Regions from separate parts of the Homo sapiens genome. Here all the other regions are reported to be linked to region 2. Evidence: microRNA targets listed by miRTarBase, many of them from high-throughput screens and not tested one by one. Region 2 holds a microRNA gene; each other region holds the end of a gene's coding sequence.

The links. The annotated mature microRNA hsa-miR-449c-5p reads UAGGCAGUGUAUUGCUAGCGGCUGU and lies in region 2 at 2,275-2,299, opposite strand. An mRNA with a match to its seed (bases 2 to 7 or 8) in the 3' UTR can be bound and repressed. Matches are read on the target gene's strand: a 7mer-m8 pairs with bases 2 to 8, a 7mer-A1 pairs with bases 2 to 7 and ends in A, and an 8mer does both.
Region 1: miRTarBase lists MALT1 as a target of hsa-miR-449c-5p. Seed matches in the 3' UTR shown: 7mer-m8 at 2,934-2,940 and 7mer-A1 at 2,632-2,638.
Region 3: miRTarBase lists ARIH2 as a target of hsa-miR-449c-5p. Seed matches in the 3' UTR shown: 7mer-A1 at 3,288-3,294.
Region 4: the mRNA of ORC4 is a reported target of hsa-miR-449c-5p. The part of its 3' UTR that is shown has no 7-base or 8-base seed match.
Region 5: the mRNA of NCOA4 is a reported target of hsa-miR-449c-5p. Seed matches in the 3' UTR shown: 7mer-A1 at 3,443-3,449 and 7mer-m8 at 2,407-2,413.
Region 6: miRTarBase lists MLLT1 as a target of hsa-miR-449c-5p. Seed matches in the 3' UTR shown: 7mer-m8 at 3,526-3,532 and 7mer-m8 at 1,887-1,893.
Region 7: the mRNA of ZNF317 is a reported target of hsa-miR-449c-5p. Seed matches in the 3' UTR shown: 7mer-m8 at 1,516-1,522.

Annotation. Positions count from the first base shown.
Region 1 is chr18:58,747,195-58,751,260 of GRCh38, reverse strand. It overlaps MALT1 (MALT1 paracaspase), which reads right to left. Exons shown (of 17, transcript NM_006785.4): 17 at 1-3,856. The coding sequence ends at 3,419. All of the region lies in intron 1 of LOC105372146 (a long non-coding RNA gene), which reads left to right. Among named protein-coding and RNA genes, the nearest start is that of LINC01926, 65 kb to the left of the region's middle.
Region 2 is chr5:55,170,039-55,174,092 of GRCh38, forward strand. MIR449C (microRNA 449c) reads right to left here and starts at 2,315; the gene lies at 2,224-2,315. CDC20B (cell division cycle 20B) reads right to left here and starts at 3,139. Exons shown (of 12, transcript NM_001170402.1): 1 at 2,900-3,139; 2 at 2,550-2,612. The coding sequence starts at 2,962. It overlaps MIR449A (microRNA 449a), which reads right to left and starts at 584; the gene lies at 494-584. It overlaps MIR449B (microRNA 449b), which reads right to left and starts at 704; the gene lies at 608-704. RefSeq lists silencers at 2,863-3,157, 3,245-3,574.
Region 3 is chr3:48,982,943-48,987,008 of GRCh38, reverse strand. It overlaps ARIH2 (ariadne RBR E3 ubiquitin protein ligase 2), which reads right to left. Exons shown (of 16, transcript NM_006321.4): 15 at 4,030-4,066; 16 at 627-3,810. The coding sequence ends at 3,739. It overlaps LOC124909376 (a long non-coding RNA gene), which reads left to right. Exons shown (of 2, transcript XR_007095903.1): 2 at 1,276-1,524. Among named protein-coding and RNA genes, the nearest start is that of P4HTM, 5.3 kb to the left of the region's middle.
Region 4 is chr2:147,932,056-147,936,121 of GRCh38, reverse strand. It overlaps ORC4 (origin recognition complex subunit 4), which reads left to right. Exons shown (of 14, transcript NM_181741.4): 14 at 424-4,066. The coding sequence ends at 612. Among named protein-coding and RNA genes, the nearest start is that of ORC4, 87 kb to the left of the region's middle.
Region 5 is chr10:46,003,026-46,007,091 of GRCh38, forward strand. It overlaps NCOA4 (nuclear receptor coactivator 4), which reads right to left. Exons shown (of 10, transcript NM_001145263.2): 10 at 2,063-3,572. The coding sequence ends at 3,567. It overlaps TIMM23 (translocase of inner mitochondrial membrane 23), which reads left to right. Exons shown (of 7, transcript NM_006327.4): 7 at 178-717. The coding sequence ends at 293. Among named protein-coding and RNA genes, the nearest start is that of SNORA74C-1, 20 kb to the left of the region's middle.
Region 6 is chr19:6,209,416-6,213,477 of GRCh38, forward strand. MLLT1 (MLLT1 super elongation complex subunit) reads right to left here. Exons shown (of 12, transcript NM_005934.4): 11 at 3,922-3,993; 12 at 966-3,755. The coding sequence ends at 3,627. Among named protein-coding and RNA genes, the nearest start is that of MLLT1, 69 kb to the right of the region's middle.
Region 7 is chr19:9,160,823-9,164,888 of GRCh38, forward strand. ZNF317 (zinc finger protein 317) reads left to right here. Exons shown (of 7, transcript NM_020933.5): 7 at 1-2,591. The coding sequence ends at 611. Among named protein-coding and RNA genes, the nearest start is that of OR7D2, 16 kb to the right of the region's middle.

The DNA.
Region 1 (4,066 bases), not on the chromosome of region 2:
TGGTCAAGCTGGTCTTGAACTCCTGGGCTCAAGTGATCCGCCTTCATTGGCCTCCCAAAGTGCTGAGATTATAGGCGTGAGCCACCACACCCATCCTAAAACTAAAATTTTATGTTCAGTTCCTCACACTAGCTATTATTTCAACTGCTCAACAACCCCATGAGGCTAAAGGCTATCACACTGGGAGTGCGGATACCAAGCATCCCATCATCACAGCAAGTTCACTGGACAGTGCTGCTCGGTGGTAACCACAGCTGAGCACCTGCATGTTTGTTTGTTTTTTTATCAGATACATGATTTTTCAAAAATTTTTCTCCCATTCTGAGGGTTAACTTCACTTTCTTAATGGTGTCCTTTAAGGCGCTAAAGTTAATTTTGATGAAGTCCCATTTATCTACTGTTTGCCTTTGTTGCTTGTGCTTTTGGTATTATGTCTAAGAAACCATTCCTAAGCCCAACATCACAAAGATTTACTTCTGTTTTCTTCTAAGAGTTTAAACTCTTATATTGAGGTCTATGATCCATTTTGAGTTAGAATTTGTAATGTGGTAGGAAGGTAGGGATCCTTTTGCTGTGCACGTAGCTACCAGTTAGTTGTCCCAGCACCGTTTGTTGAAAAGACCACTCCTTCTCTATTGATGGTATTGGCATCCTTGTTGAAAACAAGTTGACCAGAAATGTATGGGTTTATTTCTGGATGTTCAGTTCCATTCCTCTGATCGATATGTCTATCCATATGCCTACACTGTCTTATTGTAGCTTGGTAGCACTTTTTGAAATTGGTACGTCTTCCAACTTTGTTCTTTTCCAAGGTTTTTTGGCTATTCTGGGTCCCCTGCGTTTCCCTACCAATTTTACCAGTTTGTCAATTTCTGCAAAAAATACAGCTAGGATTTTGATAGGAATTGTTGAATATGTAGACTAATTTGGGCAGCATTGCCATCTTACCAATATTCAGTCTTCCAATCCATGAACATGGATGTCTTTCCATTTATCTGGATCTTAATTTCTTTAAACGTGTTGGAGTTTTATTCTTGATGCTACTGTATATAGGATTTCTTTATTCTCATTTTCAGAATGTTTGCTGTTAGTAGAGAAATAAAACTGATCTTGTATCCTGCAACCTGTTGAACTCATTTATTACTTTTTATGGATTCTTTAGCATTTTCTATATACAACTATGTATCAACTGTGAATACATATAGTTTCACTTCTTTTGCAGTATAAACCTCTTTTCTTTATTAGCTTATTTGATTTTTAGATGTTGAACAAACCTTGAATTCCTAACCTAACTGCTGTGGCTAGAACTTCAAGTACAATGCTGAATAGAAGTAGTGCCGAGTGAACATCCTTGTCCTTCTTCCCAATCTTAAGGGGAAAACATTCAGCCTTCAGTCTATCACCATGAAGTATAATGTTAGGTGTGGGCTTTTCATAGATGTTATATTTATCATATCTAGGAAGATTCCTTTTATTCCTAAGTTTGTTGAGTGTTTTTATGAAAGAGTTTTGGATTTTATCAAATGCTGTAATAAGACAATCTGTGTGGGTTTTGTGCTTTATTAAATATGGTACAGTTGATCCTCATTATTCAAGGTTATGTATTTGTGAATTTACCAACTTGCTAAAATTTATAACCCTCAAATTGATATCCGTGGCACTTTTGCAGTCATTTGTGGATATGTGTAAATGGGTGAAAAATTTGAGTCACCCAGTACACATGTTCCCAGCTGAGGCTGAACAAGATGATGCTCTGCCTTCCTGCTTCAGTCTCATAGAGAAATGACTGGAGGGTGGAAATGGCAGGGGCAATTCTGTGTAGTACAAGAAGCTCTGGCTCCGGGGCCAGCTGGATGGGGTTTGAATTTCAGCTCTGACACCTGTTAGGGGGGTGCCTCAGGCATGTCACTTAACACTTCTGATACCTCACTTTCACTTCTGTAAAATAAGGTAGAATTTGCTAGGATGAATTAAGAATTCAAGCTCATAATGTGTGTGAGATAAACATATGTATACACACATATACACAAATACACTTTCTCCTAAAAGCAGTTGTTCCATATTTAATTCAGTGTTTATGGGAGAATATTCTGTAGAACATAATTACTGTGAATAATGAGAACTGACTGTATATTAGCTTATTTGATTTTTAGATGTTGAACCAACCTTGAATTCCTGGGATAAATTCCACTTGGTCATGATATAGAATCCTTTTTATAGGTTGCTGGATTCAGTTTGCTAATATTTTTGTTAATGATTTTTGTGTTTGTATTAATAAGGAATATTGGCTTATAGTTTTCTTGTGATGTCTAGTCTAGTATCAGGGTAATACTGACCTAGAGTAAGTTGGGAAGTGTTCTTTCCTCTCCTACTTTTAGAAACAGTGTGCAAAAAATTAGTGCTAATTTTAATGTTTGGCAGAATTCAACAATGCAGCCATCTAGGCCTGGGATTTTCTTTGTGAGACTTTTAAAATTACTAATTCAGTATTTTTCCTTGTTAATGCCAATTGCATTTTTAACCAACTTTTAGGTAGAGCCAAAGATAAGAGTATTATCTCATTAGGCCAGTGAAATTCAAGAAGAAAATACATATTATCAAGGAAGATGCTAAATATTTGGGAAATTCTGATAGGCAGCTATGAAAATTATCCATTATATCTTGATTCTTAACCTCTATCTAGCTTTAACAAACATTTTATCACTTCTCATGTGGTTTCATAATCTTATGAACAAGAAATTTCAGCCTGTTCTATAACAGATTTATATACAAACCTCTTAACTAAAACTTGCAGTGAAGTCCTTATAATCAAAAACTAAAGTTTGTACATTCCTTGAGATAATACACAGATATGTATCTGTATATATTTATATATATATAAATATATTTCACTCTATCTACAAACATAACACTTATCTCAGAACCTGTCAGGAAGGCAGTTGTGTAGTGGAAAAAATACTGGAATAGATTTCTGGAGGTCTCAGTTCTGGTGCCAGCTCTAACTTAGATGCCTTTCTGTGTTTCTTCCATGGATAAAATTAGGTTATGCCTGGTGATCGGCAAGGTTCTTTCTGGTGTTAAAAATACAATGACTTATTCTACAATAATGCCATTCCCATTGCTCTTACTTCAGAGTGGTCACAATGAAAATATTTTGTTATATACATATAAACATACACACCTCCATACTTCATTTGTATAGAACTATTCAACCAATTCACAAAATCTTAGAAAGAGGAAGTCTGTAATTAAATAATGTAATTTCAACATCTCAAAGTCCTGAAGTTTGCTATGAAACAGTTACTACTATTCTTTCTCTACATATACAAATTTGCCTTTTCACAATGTCTCACTTTATGTAAGTGCAGTACTATTTCACAGGCATCTAAAATTATGCTAACTTTCAAAAACAAGGAGGTCATTTTTCAGAAATTCTGAGCCTGTCAGAGAAACTAAATGGTATTTCATCAGTTGTCTCTACTGGCACATTACTTCTACTAAAATGACATGAAGCATGGTGAGCGAAACTTGAAATAAATGCATCTGGAGTCCGGCTGCAATGACAGCTATCTGCTGGTGTAACATTACTTGGATTACCAGGATGTGAATGGTAAACACCATGGAATGGGTCTTGCAATGAGTGATAATGCCCTGCTCCTCCTGAGGTGGCTGCAGAACTCTGGTAAGGACCATTAGACATAAGACAAGTTTGAAAGCAAGTCTTCCTTCCCAAACCTCGATGCATGTCTAATTTAGCAATGAGAGGTTTCCCAACATTCACTTCCTGCTTGTCCTCTACAGTATCTTCCAATCCTGAGTACTGATATGATAAACATACTGTGAAGACTAGATGTTCCTGAAAAGGAAAAAAATCTGGTTTATTATTGGCATCAACAGTGAATATATATCAATCTGAAAATATTCACACATACACACCCCCACCCCCAAAAATCCACTCACTCTCCTTTCCCAGGTTCCAAATCCTCAAGGCATCCTTTATATCTCCCTGAAACTGAGAAACGCCAGCTATCATTATCTTCCTTTTCCTTCATGCAATACTTACAAC
Region 2 (4,054 bases):
GGGAGGCGGAGCTTGCAGTGAGCCGAGATCGCGCCACTGTACTCCAGCCTGGGCGACAAAGCGAGACTCCGTCTCAAAAAAAAAAAAGAAAGAAACTAATAATGCAGAAAGAATCCTAAAGACTTCACTGAAAATCTGGGGACACATTGTAGGTCCATTCCACATTGTTATTACATTCTAAACCTTATAGTTAAAAACATGTAATTTCATAAATACTTAAACACTGTCTACTCCGAAAGACTCCAAAGACTCCAAAAATATTTCTTAAAAATTTTTAGTTATGGAAAAGCAGGCATAAGTAAATTTTTCTTAAAAGGAAAAAATTTAAGTAATTGTAATACTTTCCTTACCATTATAAAACTGTGCATTGTAAGTATTACTGTATTATAAGCTAATGGCAATAATATATTATGGTAAATAGTGGCTTGCTTCATAGCAGAAAGTACACATAAACACACACTAATTACAGATTCAGTTACACTCTGATGTTCATTGTATATGCAATAAGACAGCAGTTGCATGTTAGCCGATGCCATTCACATATTCAACCAGCTAACAATACACTGCCAGCTCATCACACACAGGTATCCAGAGCACTTCATTGACAAGAAGAATTTATCCAGAAGCAAGTGGCAGGGTAGTTGTGGCTGCTGACTTGACCCAAGCAGCCAGCTAACAATACACTGCCTACCTGATTCAGGTCACTGCCGATTCTCGTGGCCCAGGCAGTCACTGAGGCTAAATTTGTAACATGAAACATAGTGGCAGAACTCTAATCTTAATAGTCACATTAAAGAAAACTTATACACAAAATGTATTACTTCAAGACTATAAGAAATAAAATCAATATTTGCTTGAATCTAGTCAAAAACATAAAAGTTAAACAAAAACTTTAAAACTTTCAGAATACTTACATTTAGGTTTTCCAAATTAAATGCTTGGATAAAAATATGTTCTACAGTACAAATGAATTTTAAAAGTTACTTAACTGTAGGCTGGGCGCAGTGGCTTATGCCTGTAATGCCAGCACTTTGGGAGGCCAAGGTTGGCTGATCCCCTAAGGTCACAAGTTCAAGACCAGCCTGGCCAACATGGTGAAACCCCGTCTCTATTAAAAATACAAAAATTAGCCCAGCGTGGTGGTGCTGCCTGTAATCCCAGCTACTCAGGAGGCTGAGACATGAGAATCACTTGAACCCGGGAGCTGGAGTTTGCAGTGAGCCGAGATTGCACCACTGCACTCCAACCTGGGCAACAAAGTGAGACTCTGTCTCAAAAAAATAAATAAAAAGTTACTTAACTATAGCTTTTCAAATCACTTCTGTTTACTGATCCAAAGACTACTTGTCTGTATTAGACAGTAAAATATCTAGGAGTCGTGATAATACATAAGCTGTGCACGACACAAAACTGCAGCAGTGTTTGGGGGAAAAAATCAACATTAAAGTATTTAAGAAATGTAAGGGCTTAAATGCAATTAGTTTTCTCCTACTAGAAATGACATTAGTAATCGAGTTCTGAAAATGCAATTATGTATTCAATATAGGATGTTACCACTTGAATACTGAATTTTTTTTTTTAAGAGGCAGGGTCTGGCTCTGTCCTCCAGGCTGGAGTGCAGTTGTGCAATCATAGCTCACTGCAGCCTTGAACGCCTGGGCTCAAGCAATCCTCCTGCCTCAGGCTCCCAAGTAGCTGGGACTACAGGCACATGTCATCATGCCCAGCTAATTTTTGCAGTTTTTTTATAAAGACAAGGTCTCCCTGTGTTGTCCAGGCTGGTCTTGAAGTCTTGGCCTCAAGTGATCCTCCTGCCTCAGCATCCCAAAGTGCCGGGATTACAGGCATGAGCCACAGTGCCTAGTTGCAAAATTTATATAAGATCTAGAAAAATCTATTAAAATGGTGGTGGATTTGGAACTAGAATCTCTGCGTACAGGTCAAAGGAAGATGAACTATTGAGCCTAGAGAGAAGCATGGTAAATGGTGACAGAGATTTAAAGCAGATGAAGGCTCTTTATGAAACACGTTTATAAAACCATTTAAATTTGTTTCCTTTTACACTGATTACAGGAGACACTAAAGACCTTTGGGTTTGGTCTTTCAAGGAGAACAGGTACTACATTGGATCAACTTTAAATTGCTCACGTTAAGAACCATGGTTTATGCCACTTCTCCACATTGTCCACAAGATGGCACCATTTCCATTTCTTTGGGGGGCGTGCTTCTGAATGCAACAGAGAGGAGTGCAACTAGCAACTGTTAAAATCATTAACAGCCGCTAGCAATACACTGCCTACCTGACACATCCCAGCTTTATCCTTTGCTGTGGAGGCAGAAACTAGAAAGTACGATTCAGATGCAAACGATTGCATTATTTGTCTGGGATCTTCAGTTTCATAAAGAAATTTTTTTTAGTATGTAATAAGATACTAAAATTCTCATATTTTCAGACCAGCTCAAACTTCCTACAAATACATTATTTACCAAGAATTCGTTTGTTCAAGATCAGAATTAAAACAGAGAACAAGAACAAGCCCTGGACTCACGTTGGCGGAATCTTGACTTCTCTTCTGCTTCAAGTCTTTGGAGAGCACACGCATGATACTTTCCTTTGAAAACACAGATAACATATTGAGGGAGAAACTATTTAGGAAAATCATAATTTCAGGTGTGGAATTTTTCTAGATCTTGTGCTTGTCAGATTACACTTTTTTTTTTTTTTTTTTTTTTTTTTGGCAACTAGGCACCTTCAGAATATAACTAAATTACATCACTCAAATTTACGACCAGGGCTTAGAGTTTCGTACCACCTCTTGGTCCTAAACAGATATTATGAACGGGGCCTTCGGCCCCGCATTAGAGAGTTAGGGAGAATGCAGAAAAGGGTGTTACTCACCCACAGCATCTCCTCTTCCGTGCGGACCCTCCGAGGCGCGGTGCGCTCCAGTTTCCACTCCATCTCCGGCTGACTTCGCCCTGCCTGGCGTTTGGCCTCTCTGCTCGACTGCCTCTGGTTTTCTTCCCAGGTCTAAGTCAGTCTTGACGCCTAATCGTCAAACCCCTGGAGTCCCGTCCCCCAGGACCATTCTATTTCACCACCTCCCTCCAGGTCCCCCACTCCTCCCACCGCCGCTGCAAGGTGTTCCCCAGGGTACCATTTAAAAAGCCGGCGGGGCGGCAGTCGGCGCGGGAATCCCCCTCGCCGGCTTCTTATTGGCCGGCGCCGCGGTGTCGTCAGAGCCCGGGTGGGATTCCCCGGCGCGCGCCGCGGCCCCGCCCCTGCCGGCCCTCTCTGGGCCCCGCCCCGCCACCGCCTCCGGCCGAGGCGCGCACCCGGGCGCCAAGCTTTGCCGCGAGCCGTGGCGGGCCTGCGGCTGGGCCTGGCGCCGGGGGCTGCCACCGCGGCAGGAGGCGGAGGGGTTGGCGGGCGAAGAAGCGGGTTCTGGGAGTTCACGATCTTTCCATTTTCAGAAACAAGAATGTTTCCTTATAACGGCCCTGATCCCTGTTCCTCTGCACCCACTTCTCTTTCTCCAACCACACCCTGCCTTTGCAGGATCCGAGCGTGCACAGCTCTCCGGCCTCTGTCCGTTGGTAATCGCTGTGTCAGCTATAGATGTGAGGCGTGTTCGTCAGCTCTTCGTTTTCAGAAGGCAAGAAAACGTGGCAAGATTTCTATGCCGATCAAAAGGGAGAGCGTTGACATATTTATGCAATAAATTATTCCCTGCTCTATACATTGGGAGTAGTCAGGTCCTCTCACTCGGGCTTCTGAGCCCTGTTCCTTAGCAGGGGGTAGGTGAGAGAGGTGAAGAGGTAGTGAAAGAACCAGTGACAGGCAGGACCTCATAAGGCGTGAAGAGGGGGCCAGAAAGCTGAGCACACTGGGGACTCCGTGATAAAGGGGGAGAGGAAGATATTGAGGGTTGAGGAAGAGGTCTGGCGGGAAATGACAGGGAACCAGATGGGCTGTGCAGCCTTAGCTGCCCATCTGAGCTGCCAAGAGAGCCGAGTTGTGCCATATGGCAGGAGGGGACACTGCATCTGGGAA
Region 3 (4,066 bases), not on the chromosome of region 2:
CCCTAACTCATTTTAAATGGCTGTGTAATGTGGATGATGACAGCACCTACCTCAAGGGGCTGCTGTGAGGACTAAATGGGTATGTTCTCAGTTAACATTAGTGTGATTGTCTTTGTGAGGTCCCACTTCTATCACTTTCTATCCCGCCCCAAGCAGAGCCTGTTATACAGGAGATGCTCAGATGCTTATTGTGTAAACCCCTGTGGGCTACATGGAAAATCCCTCCTGACTTCGCTAGAAGGTGCTATCTTCTCTCTTTTTAGGATTGCCAAAGGTATGGTGCCAAGGCCATAGTACCCTGGCCCCACTGATCTGCAGGAGTGGCCCTGAGCATGGGTGGTCCTTTGCTCCTGGCCTTGCTGCTCCAGTAAAAACATTCACTAGTGGGCTGGGTGTAGTGGCTCATGCCTGTAATCCCAGCACTTTGGGAGGCCAAGGCAGGAAGATAGCTTGAACTCAGGAGTTTGAGACCAGTCTGGGCAACATGGCAAGACCCTGTCTCTACAAAAAAAAATACAAAAATTAGGGGAGCATGGTGGCACACACTGGTCCCAGCTACTCGGGGAGCTGAAGCAGAATAATTGAGCCCAGGAGTGGAGGCCGCAGTGAGCAGAGATCATGCCACTGTACTCCAGTCTGGGCGATAGAGCGAGACTGTCTCAAAACAAAAAACAAACATTCACTAGTGATCAATTCCTTCTATGTTCCCCATGGATTGGAAGCTCCTGGAAGCTAGAGCACGTGAATCACTTGCATACCACTGTATGCCCAGGTGCCAAGCGTGGGGCTTGGCACACCTGAGGTCCAGAGGAAGAGCTGCGGAGTTCAGACTGGCAATGTATGAGGCCTCTTCTAGCCACAGGTGCCCTGTGCATGTTGCCCACAGCTATGGAGCCTCCACTCTACCCCTGAGCTACTTATCACTGACACTACTGCCACTTCTGACACCACAAATGTGGACCCCCTTAATCAATCCAAACCTCATTTCCTGTCCTTCACCCTTGAGATTAGACTCCACACTTGTTTCTGCCCCAAGTTGTCTCTTCATAACCCTTAGGGCTCCCGTGAAGCTGGAGTTCACCCTGCCATATTCCACAGCCCTACATTCCCATGTCTGCTTTGGAGGGGTCCGGAGGTCTCAGAATGGGGGGGTTGGGACATTTATATCAGTACTCTACCACAACCCTGGGATCTATCTGTGGTGGGGAATGATTCAGCCTGTACTGAGGGAGAGGAGAGCGGAAAACTGGCAGGATTTTCTACTTCATTCCACAGGGATCACTTACAGGTGCCCTCTCCCCCAACAGCCAGAAAGGGAAAACAGAGCCGAGTTTGGCCACTGGGGCCTCCACAGCCCTCTGGAAGAAGGGGCTGACTGATAGGAAGGCACTCCTCTGGTGTTCACTGGCCAGACCCCTGTGGGCTCAGAAGACTACCTAGACCCCATGAAGAAAGACTCTAGACACATTTTTATAATCAGAAACTTACAGTTTATTGTGAATAAACCACTCAACTTTGAGCAGATGACATTGCCTCAATTAACTTTTTCGTTGAAGAAAAACAAAGATATATGGTAAATTCATGAAAATACTGTGTCCTTTCTCTTCCACCCTTTGTAGGGCAGAAAAATTCTGCCTGACCTTTCCCATCTTCCTGATGATGTTAACAAACGACAGCCACTGAGGGCACAGGAGGGGGCTCTACACAGGCCAAGAGCTACAGGCTACAGTCTGAGCACAGAAAACCCTCCAGCTCCAGCATCCAGGGCCACAGCTGGACACAAGTACAGAACCTGGCAGCCCTGCAGCCCAGACAATGCCCAGGGTGTGATTTAGGGTGCAGAGCTGCAACTCAGATCCTGTGCCATGGCAGTATCACAGGAAGGACTTGACGGAGAGGTGAAGGCTCCAGACGCCAGGATATTTATTCCCTGTGCCAATACAGCATTCACACCTGACCTCCAGGTCCTGCAGCAGGTACTCTCCTCATTCACAGTTAGCTCCCCACTGTTCCATTCTGGGTTCATTTGCTATACTCCTAATCTGTTCTCCCAATCCACCCCACAGTCTCTCCCTTGCTGGGGACAACACAGGAAGAGACAAAACCTGAGGAAGGAAAAAGGGAACCTGCAACCAGCCATGGACCTCATGATCCCATGAGTCACAGCTATCCTCTGTCTTTAAGAATGACTGTTTTATAGCTTACATGGTACCTGGGAAATTGCTGACTTGCAGCTGAAATGTATGAATACCAAAGAATTTCTATCACAATATTCACAGATCTCTGTATCAGCTCTACTTGGAGGTCAAGCAGGCTTGGGAGAGTATAGACTGCTCTGCCTGCCCTAGAGTGGAAGCATTGAACAAAGCCACAAAAACCCCAGAGATCACAGATCTAACTTTTCAATGGCCCACAGGACCAGGTTCAGGACAGGTAGGACACCAGGCAAACCACTTGTTCCCTTGCGCTTCATTGTGCAAAAGCTGGTCTGTTCCTCTGGCCAGACCCTCCTTAGTACAGGATCTCGGACCACAAACCAAGGAGTCTCGTGGCCTTGGATTCCCAGACCCTAGGATGGTATCCCTCTGACAGCTGGAACCAGGCAAGGGGGAACACACCTCAGCCTCAGAGCAGCCTCTGGACACTCTCCAGGTAACATGAAAATAACTTGTGCAAACACAGCCCCCATGCCAGAAAGTCCAGTGCCCTAGGAAGGGCTATCCTGAATTCTGACCCTGATGTTTGCCAAAGGAGAATGCAGCAAGACAGTGTCAGGTTTGGCCAAATGTGACCCTGCTCAGAGCTATACCACTTGAATACTGGCACAAAAGAAAGGACCAAGGTAAAGCAAATTTATTTGGGAGGAACAATTCCCTTCAAAAGTAGATCCCTATCTTTAGGAGACAAAAGGCAACACTGTGATGAACCCACACCCCCTAGTTTGGGGGGCCACAGGCCCAACCCCATTCTGCTGTGGGCTCTAGCCTCAGTAGCCAGATCCAGGTAAACCTCAGTTTCAAGAATAAAGGTGAGCCACAGACATGCAGCACCACCAGAGACAACAACACCCCGTGGCAAGAAGACCATGTTCTGGACTGTCTCCGTACTGCCACGGTAAGGCAGGAGGCATGCTGTGACCCCTTGTGCTCCATGCCCATTGCACAGGCCAGTTCAATTCCCTACCATCTGCCACCCATGCTCTTCTTTGGGACTACAACTCTGGCCAAACGTGAATATGGAAAGCAGAGGCCCAGGGCCCTCTTGCAGTACAGACATTTTGAGGTGGGTAGGCAGCATATGTTACATTCTAAGTAAAACAGCTAGAGGGTAAAACACTCCAATGCCAATTTATTTTCAAAAAGGGCTCTGTGTTATCCTATAGTTTGCCTTTTTTTTTTTTTTGTATAATTGTACAACCTTTGAAAGTTACATAAGTTGTAATGATCTAATACTATTAATAGCCATTCAGAAAACACTTTCCCTCCCTCCCAACAACCATCCAGGGGGAAATAAAAGTCCTGAAAAGAGGCCAGTTCAACATGGCCTCTACCCTGGTAGAAACAAAAAGTGAAAAGAGAAGAAAACAGAAATCAACTAAGAGGTGTTGCCAGTGTCTCTCAGGAGTGGGGCCCTGGCTGTTGCCTGGGGTCATGAAAGGCAGAGCCTGCAGCATGCAGTATGGCAGCCGGGAGACCTTGCAGCCACATCTTCCTCACCCCGGCACATCCACATCCCAACTTAGGTGTCATGGAAATCTTTCAGCAGGGTTCTCCTCCGCTGCTCCGCTATATGCATCTGGTTCTCCAAGTCCTGCATCAGAGAAACAAGGTGTGTGCTTGCATGGCCCAGGCCTGGGAGCAAGGAGTAGCCAAAGCCACAAACACCCTCCAGGACCTCCAAGGAGTCAAAAACACTGCCCTTCCCATTCTTAGCAGCAGCTACCAGTGCACAAGCCAACAACGCTGTCACCTATTACCATGCCAGTCCTCTACCTGCAATATAGAATCCAAGAGGACAGTAGGCACTTACCCCTCTGTCATAGCTGTCTGCACGCTCCACTTTCCAT
Region 4 (4,066 bases), not on the chromosome of region 2:
CAAAAATAGAGACAGACAAAATATAAATGCAAATCTGAGTAGCCTAGGGAATTGATCAGAAAGTCTTATCTGATTCTTAGGTTTTTACAGAGAACTGGAAACTATTTATTAAAGTACTAGGAGGAGCTATGATAGAGAATGAGGCTAGGAAGAAAACCATATTGTATATATTGAATTAAAGTTTGCCGTGTTTACATTCAACAATATATGGACAAGTAAGTGTGCACTGACACTGTTTTACCTGATAATATGAGTTTTCATGGGGTTGTGAGAGTTTTTTTAATCCTATTGATTGTTGTTACATTTTGCTTCCCAGTACTCTGTTCTGCAGCTGACCAAAATGCTAACTGTTCTCTGGGAGAGAACAGGAGAGTTGTCACTCTCCTCTCCTATTCAACCTAAACTATTTCTTTCATCTTTCAGGCTTTTGAACACTTGCAGCAATTAGAATTAATAAAGCCCATGGAAAGAACTTCAGGAAATTCACAGAGAGAGTACCAGCTGATGAAACTGCTTTTGGATAATACTCAAATTATGAATGCTCTGCAGAAATATCCCAACTGTCCTACAGATGTGAGGCAGTGGGCAACATCCTCACTAAGCTGGTTATGAATATAACCAGTGACTTCAACTTTGGCATTTCATTCATACTTCTGTAGAGAACGGAAAACTATTGTCCATTAACATGATATGCTAAACATTCTATAAACATTCTTGTATTTATGTGAGACTTGCCCATCTACTGTCTTGGCTGTGTCTTGCCTTTTAATCATGAACAGTTACATGATTTATAATTTCACTGATTGAGATTACTTTGTAAGTAGCTGTTCAGAAGAATAAAATATGACTGTTTTAGGGACTAGACCATGTGCTTTTTTAACACTTATATATATAATGGTCTATTTGAAGAGCTCACTTCAACCTAACAGCTAGATGTCTTTACAAACCTTAAACCAAAGGAGTAAAAAAAACAATGGTAAGCACTGAAGTATAATAAGTAACCTTTGGTACAGCAGGTTTGCTGCAGTGTTTTTTTCTGTCCACATGCAAATTTTGGATTCTATCCCAGACCCAGGTTTTCTAGTTCAGAAGACTAACCAGCTTAGTCAGAAGATGGTTCCATGGAAGAAAAAGGCCAAGGAGTTTGAAGATTTTTCTTCTAGACATCTCAAAATGTGGTACTCATACCATCCACATCAGAATCCCTTGTAGGATTTTCTAAAATTACAGATTGTTGAGCCTACCATAGGTCAAAAGGACTGGAATTTTCCTTCTTAACAAGTATAGTCATGGCACCACGTAACATTTTGGTCAATGACATTGTATAAAGGGTGGTCTCATAAGATTATACCATATTTTTACTGTACCTTTTCTATGTCTAAATATACAAATGTTTTACCATTGTGTTACAGTTGCCTACAGTATGATTACAGTAACATTCTGTACAGTGCTATAGCTGAAGAGTAATAGGCTAGGCTATCTGTATAGCCTAAGTGTGTAACAGGCTATATACATATCATCAGGGTCTGTGTAAGTATACTCTGTGATGTTCATACAGTGATGAAATCACCCAAAGACACATTTCTCAGAACGTAGCCCCATCATGAAGTGACGTGACTACCAGAGATTTCTGGAAAAGCACTCCCAAAAGTAATGAGATGTGTATGGCAATGTTAACTGAACCTGTTTGTATTAAAAAGTAAATCCCTATGAGGAATGTGGAAATGTCCGTCAAAGCATTGTCTTTTAAGTAAGTTCCAAGATCCATGAATTAACAGAGGCATATATTTAAAATGAAATTTAATGAGCACTTAGTGACTTCATTTGTTCAAGAATATTTGATTTCCTATTGTGTGCATGGGAGGTTTACAAAAGACAGACTGTCCCTATGCTTGTGCAGCTTACAATCTATTTAACTATTAGAGGCCCTGTGAGATGTAGGCAGTTATTTACAGATGAGAAAACTAACACAGCAGTGGCAATGCTGGGAATGGCCAACAGGCTTGGAATTCAACTCAGTTTAGCACCAAAGCCAGTGCTATTAAGACCTGAAGTTCAACAGTGGATTCCTTACCAAATAGTTTTTAAAGTATGCTCTAAGGAACAATGTTTTAATGAAATCTTGGATACAAAGTGGAATAAAAGGTTTCTGAGCATAAAGTAGCTCTTCAGTAGTTACAACCTATTCTTTTGCATACATAGCCTTTCCTTCCCTGCAAAAAGTTAAGCCTGCTAAGTATTCAGATCCCTGTCATTTACTTCTCAGCAGTCTCATTCAAGCTAAGGCTTGCATACTCAATCTGTGCCGTAGTCTACACATTTTTAGGGGATATTTCACCAAAATACTTGACATGGTAACATCACTATTATATACTAGAAGCAAGAATTTTACACTTATGCTCTAAGTGATCCTTTTAAAAATTTTCTGAACTATTTGAGGAAAGTATTATTTGTCTTAAAGGGTAACAGCCTCATGAAATGACTTGAGGATTCCAATTTCTTATTAGCTTAAGATGTCACTTAAAAGCTGACAGCCCTCATCTGTCTCATTGGCTACATAAGAGCTGCAGAAGATCCATCAATAACCAAGTATAAAGAAAGATTTTAAGACTAAGTACCAATTGAGGTAAACATGAAACCGTTATAAAGCAAATTAAAAAAAAATACATTAGGAAAAGTTACACAAATGAAGTGTACGCCTATTATATTCCCAAGGCATTTTTGTGGGGAGGAACAGTGCTGCTTGTTGGCCTTTCCATATTCCCTCATACAAAAATGCTAAAATCTATTCGCAAGAGTTTTGAGCTAACTTCGTCTCTTAAATTGCTTTAATTGTCATCAATAAAAACAAATATGAAAAACCCTAGTTTAAAAAGCGGTTCAAGAATAATGTAAACTTATACATATAGCTTATTTTCTTCATTTACTAGAGGAGGAAAAATAGAACCAAAAAATGCATGAACTCCTGCTTTTCAATCTGATTACCTCAAACTGAAAAGCAGGTGAAAGGAGGAATATTTCAGTGTGTTTTTACATCTGAATCCAAGGGATCCAAGTGGCCCAGCAGAAACGGAATTCTTGTTAAAATGACTGATTCTCGTGCATGTGAAAGGCTCTGGGGAATGAATACCTGTTTGGTCCAAACTTACTGTATCATAATGCTGTATATGTTGAAAACGTAATACCTGTTAATGTCCTAATGAATCACGTTTTGCAGAAAACACCGTAAGAAACACTTCAGTCTTTCTGTAGTTTCCATGCATATTTCACCATGGTTCGCACTCTGATCCTCATCTGGTTTAGAAAGCAATTCAGTTTCTTTCAAACCACCATAACCTAAGTGCTGCCCCATCCTTCACCTTTACCCTAGAAAATCTGAGAATCCATTGGTGTGTACTGTGTGACACAATGCCAACAAGCCTCTGGTTTCTAATACTGGCAGGACCAACACACATACTTTAGTGGGAATATAATCTGTTTAGACGATAATAGAGGGAAATGCCATAATTAACAAATCTCCCTTCACTCACCACTATCCTCATTCTTGCAGTTGTCAAGGTGTAAGCCTCACTGTAAGTTACAAAGCTACCACTCCCCTCTTTAAGAACACATAGCTTAGGATTGCCTTGGCGATGTGGGCTCTTTTTTGGTTCCATATGAACTTAAGTAGTTTTTTCCAATTCTGTGAAGAAAGTCATTGGTAGCTTGATGGGGATGGCATTGAATCTGTAAATTACCTTGGGCAGTATGGCCATTTTCACAATATTGATTCTTCCTACCCAAGAGCATGGAATGTTCTTCCATTTGTTTGTATCCTCTTTTATTTCCTTGAGCAGTAGCTTGTAGTTCTCCTTGAAGAGGTCCTTCACATCCCTTGTAAGTTGGATTCCTAGGTATTTTATTCTCTTTGAAGCAATTGTGAATGGGAGTTCACTCATGATTTGGCTCTCTGTTTGTCTGTTGTTGGTGTATAAGAATGCTTGTGATTTTTGTACATTGATTTTGTATCCTGAGACTTTGCTGAAGTTGCTTATCAGCTTAAGGAGATTTTGGGCTGAGACGATGG
Region 5 (4,066 bases), not on the chromosome of region 2:
CCAGGCTGGTTGAACTCCTATCCTCAAGCGATCCACCCACCTCGGCCTCCCGAAGTGCTGGGATTACCTGAGCCACCGTGCCCAGCCCATTTCACAGTACTTTTTATTTAACCCTATCGTGCTAGGGCACTATGCAATATACAGCTATTTCATTTTCCTTTTGTCTCTGTTTCCCAGGTGGTCTTCGAGGGATAGCACGAGGTGGTCTGACAGGACTAACACTTACCAGCCTCTATGCACTATATAATAACTGGGAGCACATGAAAGGCTCCTTGCTCCAACAGTCACTCTGAAGATTTTGCCAACTCATGAATGGAGGACACTTCAGTAGTCATCTAGATCCTTTTATAAGACAGTTTGGAGTTATTCTCTCTCTTCTACCTACAATTAGTTTGAAAAATTGGAGATTTTGATTTGCTGTGATGAAAATCCTGGATGGCTGACCAAGACTGGCACTTGTTCCAGCCATTAGTGAGTTGAAGCCAAAGCCCTTTGGTGACTCACTGAGTACCATGGTTCTGTTCTCCTCTGGAGATCTTGCACGTATCTGTTTTCCTCCCCCATGAACTAGAAAACCACTTACTCCCAGAATTCAGGTCGTGCTTGTTAGTACTATATCACCAAGTCCATTCATTTAATGATCCAAAACTGTAATGTTGCACTGTATTCCAAATAAAGGGTAAAAACAGAACCAAAGTTATAACTCCAACACACAAACATAGTGGTTGTCTCAATTTAAAAGTATCTACCTGGGTATAAAGTGAAAGGTACCCTTGGCATTTTTTGTCCCAGTGGGCAAAACAACATCTTCGTGTTTGTGTTAAAATGAGCTACTTGGTGGCCGGGTGTGGTGGCTCACGCCTGTAATCCCTGTACTTTGGGAGGCCAAGGCAGGTGGATCACCTGAGGTCAGGAGTTTGAAAATCAGCCTGGCCAATATGGTGAAACCTTGTCTCTACTAAAAATACAAAAATCAGCTGGGTGTGGTGGGTGTGCACCTGTAACCCCAGCTACTCAGGAGGTTGAGGCTGGAGAATCGCTTGAACCCAGGAGGCGGAGGTTGCAGTGAGCCCAGATCATGCCACTGCACTCCAGCCCAGGTGACAGAGTGAGACTCCATTTCAAAAAAAGAAATGAGCTACTGGTGGCATTCACCAATAGAGCTGGTACTAAACCACCTCAAGGTATTTCAGGTCAGCCGTTAGACTAGTATGCTAGAACAATCTTTCCAACAATCCTGCTTCATTCCATACATATTAACTCACACCTTACTAGGAATAATTAAGAGCTAGGTTTTTTTTTTTTTTTTTTTTGAGACAGGGTCTCTGTTCCCCAGGCTGGAGTGCGGTGGTACAATCTCAGCGCACTGCTGAGATTACTTGAACACCTCCCGGGTTCAAGTAATTCTGCCTCAGTCTCCCAAGTAGCTGGGATTACAGGCACTTGCCACCATGCCCAGCTAATTTTTGTATTTTTAGTAGAGGCGGGGTTTACTATGTTGGTCAGGGTGGTCTCGAACTCCTGACCTCAGGTGATCCACCTGCCTTAGCCTCCCAGAGTGCTGGGATTACAGGCGTGAGCGACCGTGCCTGGCCAAGAGCTAGATGTTTTTCAAGGAAGCCTTGGGAAAACTAAAGGACATGAGGCCAAATTGTTTAATTTCTGAGTTTGTTTTCTCATCCACCATATGAAGTTAATCATGTATAATTGCACTACAGGTTATACACATAAATATTACTGTATTAAATACCTGGTGGCTATATGATTGGAGAAAGTAAACTAGGGCCTCTTCGGATGCATCTAGTAAGAGGAATCCAGTAGAAAGGCACTGAATCTTGGCTGAAGTCCCATAGGTTTTTTTTTAATAGATGTGAATAGTTTTTATAAAAGACTGAAAATGGAGGTTAATATACCTATTGTTTGCTAATTTTTCATAAAATACACTGATGTTATTTTTATGTTCAAGCTGTTTCTCAGCTGGATTACTAACCAAAAGTTACCACGTTATGTGGTACCACACCACACTTTGTGACAAATAGTTTTAAAAATAACACGCAACAACTATGGCTGTTATGCTTTTAATGGAAGCAGATACAAAATTCATCAATGCAAAAGAATGTTTTACATACTCATTAACATAGTGATTAATGTAAATTATATTTTGACTTGTAAAATACAGTGTGTTTGGCCTCAAGAAACTACAGAGCTGCAACTCAAGATAACTGGAAAGGCTCCTTACATTGTTTTTGCCCACCACCTTTATATAATACTCCTAAATGATATCTGGGGAGGGAATTAAAAAATAATACAAAGCTCTTTTCAGCTGTGGTTCAAAGAACTCTAGTGAAGCTGTATGGCAATGACATTTTGGGACCATGAAGTTTCCCCAGAAGTATTTCCGGTAAGAGGCAGTTAAGAAGCTTAATAGTTTCAAAGTCTGGAAAGCAGCAAAGATATCTTAGAGAAAACATTATAAACCCCACTTCTCTCCTACACAGACATTTTAAAGCATGGACGTAACTTTAAGGAGACTGAGAAAACATCAGTAGTTTTCACAAAGCTTCAATGAACACCCCAAGGCACAAGTGTTGAAAACGGCCTGTTCACTAAAACGTCACTTTTGGAGGTACAGGTATGCTGTGCTTGCAGTGAGAGGATGACTTTATCCCTACTTAAAAGCACCAGGTGTCAAGCTCAGCTTCCATTTACACAGGATGCACCAATTATCCCTATGATAGTGACTGTTTCAAGTACTATACTACATTTCCAACATGTCTTTTGCCTATTTGCTTAGTCGGTACTGGGGTTCTTTTAAGCCCCGTAGGTCTGTAGAATATTTTAAAAGGCTAGAATTACCTCAAAAATAGTCTTGAAATAATACTGAGTCCTTCTAAAGAGCTCACTGGATATTTTAATAACATTTACAGAAAGACAAAATTTGCAGTAGCTGAGTTTAAGTGAAGAATAATGTAGAACTAACGTGGGCTAAAATGTTTCATAATTAATGTCAAAAATTGCCAAGATTATTAATATATATTTTGGTAATCACTATTGACCAGGTTAATTTTTTTGTGCAAAATACACTATGTATTAATAGAACAGGAAAATAATTATTTCAGACCACTAACAAAAGAAAACCCACAGCAAGAGAAGCATCTGTAGGGCAATTAAACGTTAGGGAAGTTTACTAGCTTTAGAATACATCAATATACTTCGATAAACAAGAGTGTTTTAATGTACTTTTAGTAACGACCCAATCTAAGGAGCCTTGGAGGCTTGTGAAAAAGACGTCCACAAAGATGCTGCATTTCTAGTGTGGGGTGAATTAAAATACTTCTGTAAGAAGGAGGGAACTGAATCACCTCAGCATGAATAAACAGCATTTTTCTTTTAAACAGTAACTCATAATCTGATGACTCACTTTGCTTTACTAGTTCAAAATTAGGCAGGAGAAGAACTAAGCTAATTGGTCAGACCCAGAAACACAAAGATTTGGCAAGCTGCAGTCACTCAGCTCATGATGTGTGATAATCAGCAGAAAGGCTGCTCAACTCTTGTCCATTCCTTCACATCTGTAAAGAGACACCCACAGATGATAAGTTACTTCAATGAAGAATAAAAGCAAATTTTCCCTGCCTTAAAGCTCCGACTCATTTCCCAATACAGGTATACCCTTGTTACATTGTATTTTTTACAAATTAAGCATTTGTGTCATGAACTATGCCCATTAAAGATGGTAAACTTTTCATCAATAAATGTCCTGAATGCCCACCAAACAGCCTTTCCCTATTTCTCTTCTCTCTCCTCAGGCCTCCCTGTTCCCTGAGACAAAACAAGATTGAAATTAGGCCAATTATTAACCCTACAATTGCATCTAAGTGTTCAACTAAAAGGAATAGTCCCCATCTCTCACTCTTCTTTAAATCAAAAGCCAGAAATGATTAAACTTAGCGAGAAAGTCATGTTGAAGGCCACGAGAGGCTGAAAGCTGGGCAGGCCTTTTGGACCAGCCAAGCTGTGAGCACAAAAGCAAAGTTTTTTGTTGTTTTTCAGCTTCTCATTCTCT
Region 6 (4,062 bases), not on the chromosome of region 2:
CTGCTGACAAAAGTGATCTCAATCAGTGGCTGCCACGGTGATCCTGTAATGTGGGCTGCTCAGGAATGGAACTCCTGCTCCTCTGGGTGGAGCTGGAGCTGGAGCACAGAGGGGACAGATCTGCTCAAATGGGGCCAGTGACAGCTTTGTCTCCTGGAGGTTCACTGAGCTCTGCCACACTGAGGCCAGAGAAAAACCCACCAGAGGGAAACTGGGAGATGGCACGCTGGCTCCTGGGAAAAAATGTCTTTGCCTACATTTTTATTTCCGTCCATCCAACCATCCATCCATCCATCCATCCATCCATCCATCCATCCATCCATCCACGCATCCATCCTTCCTTCCTTCCATCCACCCATTAACCCATCCATTGATCCACCCATCCATTCATTCTTCCATCCACTCACCCATCTATCCATCCTTCCTACCATCCATCCTTTCCATCCATCCACCCATCTGCCCTTCCTTCCCTCCTTCCGTCCTTCCCTCCCTCCTTTCCTCCTTTCCTTCCTTCCTTCCATCCACCCATCGATCCATCCATCCTTCCATCCTTTCTTCCACCCACCCACCCATCTATTCATCCATGGTCCACCCAACCAATCATCCACTCATCCATCAAACCACCCATCCACTCACCCACCCATCTGTTCATCCATCATCCATGCATCCACCTTATGAAACCAAGTTTTCTTCTCAACCCAAACCTTGCTGTCTGCTTCCAAGTAGAGAGCACAGCATCAGAAGCAGGATGTGAGCCGAATTCTCTGCCCTCTTGAATTGCTGGTAGCATCGTCTCCAGCCTTGCTCACACTCCCCACCCCCACCAGGCTTGGTCCCAACCCTCCTTCTCTGTTTTGGTCACTGATCTGGGGGCACTGGGACACGTAGTCGGGGCAGGGGGCCCCAGGCTACCTCGCAAGCCTGCCCACTGACTGGACAGGAGGAACCAGGCAGATGCATGCGTCTGCTTTCCCATCTGACTTTATTTCACTTTTTTTTTCTATAAAACTCCTCCATAATTTCACAATTTAACAAAAGTTTAAAATCCAGGAAAGAAACAATCCTGTAACTCGTTACAAACACGATTCTCCTTATTCCTTTTATCCAGGAGTTGGTCTCGGGCCGATGAGTGTCCTAGTTCCTAGTGAGACACGTTCTTTGTAAAAACCCTTATGGGCAAGAAAGGTATTCGATACCATTTGCTTTCCGGCGTCGGTTTACATTTTTGTTCAGGAGAGAGCAAAACACAGAGATTTGCACTGGGGGCAGGCGGCTTAACAGGAAACACGTGGCAATCACAAAGTGCCAGGCCCCTTTCCTATGGAAGTGTCCCCAGAGCCCTCGTGGGCCCAGCCGCCGGGCAGCTGGGGTGGGGTGGGAGAGCAGCTGGGGATGCTGCCTTGGGAGCCCATGCTGCCCAGCACGTCCATCAGGTGGTCACGGAGCCAGCCCTGGGCCCAGAGCAGCTCTGGAGGACAACGTGAGGCCTTCCGGCCAGAGGAGGTAACTGAGAACTGGGTTGGTGCTTCCGGAGGCCTTGGAAACGGCAGGAAGGGCCAGACGCCACCACCGAGAGCAGGCGGGGGAGCCCGACCCTCCTCTGGCTGAGTGGAAGGCTGCTCGAGTCGCTGTGTGGATTTTGGGGGACTCCTGCGAAGGAGAAAGGCCAGCACCCTGGGCTGAGGTTCCTGTCCGTGACCCCGGCGGCCTCTTGTGCGTAGAGCTCCCAGCAGCACGGGCCCCCGGTCAGCCCCCCTCAGGCCAGTTCCTTCAGTCCAATGTCTTAGTTTCCAGAGAAGAAAGGAAGCGCCCCATGGTGGAGTATTGTTGGCCGCCCTGGGAAGGGGAGAGGGGGCACAGGGGCCTGCCCTCTTCCTGATACCTGAAGGCAGTGGGGCCGGGAGAGAAACAGAGCAGGTGGCGAGGAGTCCCGGAGGCTTCCTCCGAAGGTTCTCGGGCCTTTCCCCGAGAGTTCTGGGGAGTTTCCCCAGGACAGCTGGCATTGGGGGCAGCCTTGGAGGCATGGGTCCCCACCAAGGAGTGTTCAGGATCTGCTGACAGAATCAGAGCAGGGACAAGATGAGGGACCTCAGGGAGGGACAGATGGAGCCCCCCAAGTCTGAACTCATAGGCTGGGGAGGAGGAGACATCTAGGTGGGTTCGAGGGGGTGCGAGCCCACCTCCAGGCCCTCAGCCCTCTTTTCCTCATAACTTGGTCAGGGCACAAGGACTTGAAAGGACTTGAAAGTCAGGGGGTTGAGAGGACTGGAGGCGCCTCGAGTCAATGTCTGGGAAACAGAGGCTAACCAGGCAGGCCTCCAGCCCCTGGGACCCCCAGCCACGATGGGCTGGCTCCGCGGGAGCGTCCTGGCCCTGGAAGAGTGGGCCGGGAAGGAGGACCGGCTTGGCCCCTGGAGAATCTCAGGCATACCAGGAGTGGGGCTGCGGGCGCGGCACCAGCATGAATTGCGGCGGTGGAGGCCGGGGCGGGCCAGGCCGCGACCAGAGAGAAAGGCAGCCTGGGAGGGCCAGCCCGGCCAACCCACCGGGCCTGCTGATGGCCGAGCCCACGCTCGAGGGGCTGACCAGAGTTCAATGCGCCTCAGAAAACTCCATAAACTATCCCGTCTTATTTGGCAAAAGCTCATATTTTTTTCAAAGTTTGAAGACTTGAATGAAAGAGAGGAAGAGGAGCCTATGGGAGGAGGCCGAGCCCCAGGGCGGCTGATGCGAGTCTGTCCGCGGAGACTGTTGGCGCTAGTCTGAGTAGAGCCCGAGAGCAGACTGGTGGCTCCCGGGCGCCCTGAGGACTCGCTGCCCTTTGTAGTGTTGGCTGACCCCCCCGGGAGCCCCGGTAGGAGGCGGCGGCATCCTTGGAACGGCAAAGGGAGAATTCCTCCATGCGCCTGGAGAGGGCCAGCTGCCGTGCCTGGCTCGGCCTCCAGCCCCACACCACCGCAGAGACATCTTAACCTACAAGCCCCACCGTACGCACCCCCCACCCACCCCACGTGCACTGCTGCCACAGAAACGCACATGGACACTGCTCTTGACCAGACAGTGCACACACATATATAATAGAGAGAACTATACAGCACAGACCCCAGCGCAGCGCGAGCCGGGGAGGAGCCGGCGCTAGGTCTACACGGAGGACGACGCAGACACACAGGCAGGGCCTTCTGAGGTCCAGGGTGGGCGGAGGGTGTGTTCTGAACCATTCGGGAGGCTGGAGATGCCCCCCAGCCGTCGATCCGCTGCTCAGAAAGGCTGGGGCAGCGACGCCGCACAGCCCGCCGAGCAGTGGGGGCTGGTCCCAAGGCTGGGCGAGGGGCCCCCGGCCCTGTCTCTGCCCAGAGCTGCCTTCAACACCAGCCGCTCTCTGAGGGGAGCCCAGAGAGCCCGGGGGGCGGCTCCCGTGTGGCCCAGCCCGGCCCCAGGGCTCCTGGCGATGGAGCGGGGAGAGTGGGCAGGGAGCCGCCGAGGAAAGTGCAGCGGGCTGTGCGGGCGAGGACAGGGCTGTCGCTAAGGCAGTGCTGCGGGCAGGCGAGACGGGAGAGGAGGGCAGGCGAGGCCTGGCTGCAGCCTCCCAGGACCCCGGCGGTGGGGGCCCGGCACGCGGCCCAGGGTCATGTGGCCACGGCCTCCAGGCAGCTCTGCAGTTTGCGCACGGTGGTCTCGTCCAGGGAGAAGAGGTCGAAGTCGAAGGTGGTGTTGGTGACATTGAAGTGGCCAGTCTCCTCGATCAGATTCACAATCTGTAAGGTGGTGGCAGGTGGCTTCAGGGGCAGGGGGCCAAGGGTGGGGTTGCCCTGTTCCCTAACAGAGGTAGGGGCTCCTGGGGCAGCACCAGGGGCCCCCGCAGCCCACACTCCTCACAGGCACCCCGACCTCTGCCGGGCAGGACCCTCAGGGGGGCGATACCTGCTGCAGCACGTTGCGCTCCCGCAGCGCCATCAGCCTCCGGTGTAGCTCCACCAGCTCATCCGTGTAGGCCTGGGGAGGGGGGGCAGGTCTCAGCAGCGTGTGGGGGCCCTGGACCCTTCCTGCTCCCATGCCCAGCCC
Region 7 (4,066 bases), not on the chromosome of region 2:
AAGAATGCGGGAAATCCTTTGGCGATCTCGTGTCCCGGAGGAAACACATGAGGATTCACATCGTCAAGAAACCCGTGGAATGTCGGCAGTGCGGGAAGACCTTCCGAAACCAGTCCATCCTTAAGACTCACATGAACTCTCACACTGGAGAGAAACCATACGGGTGCGATCTCTGCGGGAAAGCTTTCAGCGCGAGTTCAAACCTCACCGCACACAGGAAGATACACACGCAAGAGAGACGCTACGAATGCGCCGCCTGCGGGAAAGTCTTCGGTGACTATTTATCCCGGCGGAGGCACATGAGCGTTCACCTTGTAAAGAAACGAGTTGAGTGTAGGCAGTGTGGCAAGGCCTTCAGGAACCAGTCAACGCTGAAGACGCACATGCGAAGCCACACGGGGGAGAAACCGTACGAATGCGATCACTGTGGGAAGGCCTTCAGCATAGGCTCCAACCTGAATGTGCACAGGCGGATCCACACCGGGGAGAAGCCCTACGAATGCCTTGTCTGCGGGAAAGCCTTCAGCGACCACTCATCCCTCAGGAGCCACGTGAAAACTCACCGGGGAGAGAAGCTCTTTGTGTCATCCGTGTGGAAAAGGCTCCAGTGAGCGCGCCTGCTTTAGAGACACAGGATGATTCAGACCGGAAACAGACCTCGTGGGTGTAAGAGGAAGCCTCTGTGAGCTCGCACCTTACTGGGTGCAAAAGAATCCACGGAACTTGGGAGAAGTCCAGTTCCTGTAAAAACTGGGAAGACGAGGCGTTCTCATCCCATAGGAGGTTTGTGAGAACTCACGCCGGGGGTGAAAATGTACGTCTGTAGCATGGAGAAGCCTTCAGGGTACATTCAGCTCTTAACAAACACAGGAGGACTTAATGGCAGCTTGGCATTTAATGTCAAAATCCAAGCCGTGGCATTTAATGTCAAAATGACTTCAGACCACTTCTAGCCTTCTGGGCCCATGAGTAATAATGAGCACACTAGGGAGCATCTCTGTAAACACAGTGGCTGGGGAAACCCTTCCTAGTCTCACTTGATTCCTCATGACGGAAATCACACTAAAGAGAGAAATCAGTGAAGTAAGGAACGTGGAAGGTCATGAATGGGCCGCAAACCACGGCCAGCTGCTTGTCTTTGTATGGCTTGCCAGCTAACAATAGTGGTTCCATCTTTAAGGAAGAAGAATGTTTGATGGAGAAAATTTGTGGCCAATGAAGTCTGAAATACTTCCTGTCATCTGCCCCTTTCCAGAAAAACTTGGCCGACCCTTGGTCTACAGCACGGGTTCTCAGTCGGGCGACGATTTGGCTGTCTAGGCGTCATTTGGCAATGTCTAGAGACATTTTTGGTAGTTAGAATGGGGGGAAGATACTCCTGACTTGTAATAAGAAGACATCAGAGATGCTGCTAAGTCGGCTCCAGCACACAGGAGCCCCCCACAACGAAGAGTTAGTGCCCCCAAACGTCACTGTTGCTGAGGTTGAAAATAATCATGCAGTCATTCCTCAATTACTGCCTGCAGCAATTCCTCCATTTTTATGAATCTTGTGAGCACTTACGCTAGGAGAAATTTCTTTTACAAAACTTTTAAAATACAATTAGTGCTGATAATTCCTATGTGGAAATGATTCCAGCCATGGTCCCCTCACTTGAGCATGTGAATATTCTCACGGAGAGAAGCCCCAGCGAGATTTTCCGGTGAATACGGGATTGCACTTACTCTTTCATCACGGAAACAGACCCCCCGAGAGAAGCCCCAACGAGATTTTCCGGTGAATACGGGACTGCACGTACTCTCTCATCATGAAAACAGAGCCCCGTTCATAAATTTTTCATCTTTATTTTTAAGGTTATACTCCTCTAAATAACCCTTAAGCCTCATCAAGAAAGGTTTGTTTATAGTATTTTTACTATAGCTTCATCCTTGATAACGTCCTAATTTCCTTCTGGACAACCTCCTTGACCAATGGCATATTGAGATCTATGTGACATGAGGATATTTCTCAGTACCACTTTGTTACTGGTACCTGATGCACACGGATTGCGACCAGAGCATGATGCCTCCATCAAGTGGTAATATGTTTGCAGCCTGCTGTCCAGCCAAGAGTGACAGATACTTCTAGTGACTTCCCCGGTATCCACTCTCATCTTCTTCCAATATCAAGAGAATCCAGGTTCTGTCAGATTAGTAAGGTGTGCTAATCTAAATTTTAAAAAATCTCTTACAGGTTTTCTTGCAGCTGGTACCATCCATGTCTCACAGCCCTGGCCACTGACAGATCAGCAGATGTCACCACATGGGCTTCTGAGAAAGCTCTTGAATGGGGATCGTTCTTAAACATGAATTCCTCCCTGTATGTTTTGTTCTTTGCTTTACTTTTCACCTTGCAAAGAGATCCAGTACCTAGTATTGGAAGATCCACCTTAACGACCGTGCATATGAAAACCACAGTCTAAGGAAGTGACTGCAGAAAGCTCACAGCGACCCTGGCCTCCCCTGTGGCCTCTTTGAGTGTCTGCAGCAGCCCTGGACTTCCAGACTTCTATCACATGAGAAAAAATAAAACTGATTATTGGTTTAAGCTGCTATGGATATTTCATTGTTTTTCTTTTAAATTTATTTATTTTAAGATGGGGGTCTCCCTATGTTGCCTAGGCTAGATTCGAACTCCTGGGCTCAAACAATCTTCCTGCCTCAGTCTCCCAAGTAGCTGAGAATACAGGCATGTGCCACCACACCCAGCTTGTTTTTCTATTTCATTTGTTTATTGGTGGGAGGGGGTTTCTACACCCAGCTGGATGCTGCCTGGAGCCCATACACCTGGTCATTGGTCAGTTGTGTGGTTTTTTTTTGTTTTTTTTTTTTTGTTTGTTTGTTTTTTGAGACAGAGTCTTGCTCTGTCACCCAGGCTGGAGTGCAATGGCGCGATCTCGGCTCACTGCAAGCTCTGCCTCCCAAGTTCATGCCATTCTCCTGCCTCAGCCTCCTGAGTAGCTGGGACTACAGGTGCCCGCCACCACACCCGGCTAATATTTTTTTGTATTTTTAGTAGAGATGGGGTTTCACCGTGTGAGACAGGATGGTCTTGATGGCCTGACCTCATGATCCGCCCACCTTGGCCTCCCAAAGTGCTGGGATTACAGGCGTGAGCCACCGCGCCCGGCCATGTTCAGATGACTGATTAGCCTATCAAAGGCATTCTTCCGTTTCTTTATGGTGGCTTTGATTTCTGATCTTTCCTTCTGATTCTTTGAGTCTCTATTTTTCTGCTGATGATGTAGGGCAGATGAGCCCCCAAACTGGGGGTTAGCCCAGGAGGGTTCTTGGCTTTGCTCAGGAAAGAATTCAAGAGGCAGCCAGCAGTAAAAGAAATTGGGTTTATTGAAGCAGCAGGGCACAGCAGAGTGGCTGCCCCTTGTGGAGCAGGGCTGACTCATAGGCAGTATACCCAGGGTAGCAGCATATAGGCTGTTGGCTAGCAGTATTTATACCCAGTTTTAATTACATGCAAATTAAGGGGTGGGCTATTCAGACAGCACTCCTCATTCACCTTCCACCATGATTGTGAGGCCTCCCCAGCCATGTGGAACTATGAGTCCATTAAACCTCTTTATGAATTAGGCAGTCTCAGGTATGTCTTTATTAGCAGTGTGAGACACAGTTGCTCCGGCCTATAAATGACACATAGTTTTAAGTCTGTTTCCTGCAGTTCTCCTATGATTGGCCAGGGTTTTGATTCTGTTTTGTTTTTTTGCATTTTCAAATTAAGGGTAGATGATTCTGAGGGTCTTGCTCCAGCTCTGTCTCAGGCCCCCCCACCAGCTATCCCTCTTTCTTGCAGTTTACCTAACAGAGCCTTGGGGTGGGCATGTGTGGGACCGTGGTGCTAAGATTTAATGCTTTTTCTCATTTTACTCATAGTTATGTTGCAATTTTGGCATTCTCTATGTCTTAAAGGCAGTGTTGAAGGTATAGTTTTGTGTAGAAGATTCATAGGTGTGGAGTTACTTCACAGCATTTGAAAGGGGATTTGGGGAGGTTGCTTACCACTCACTGGCCAT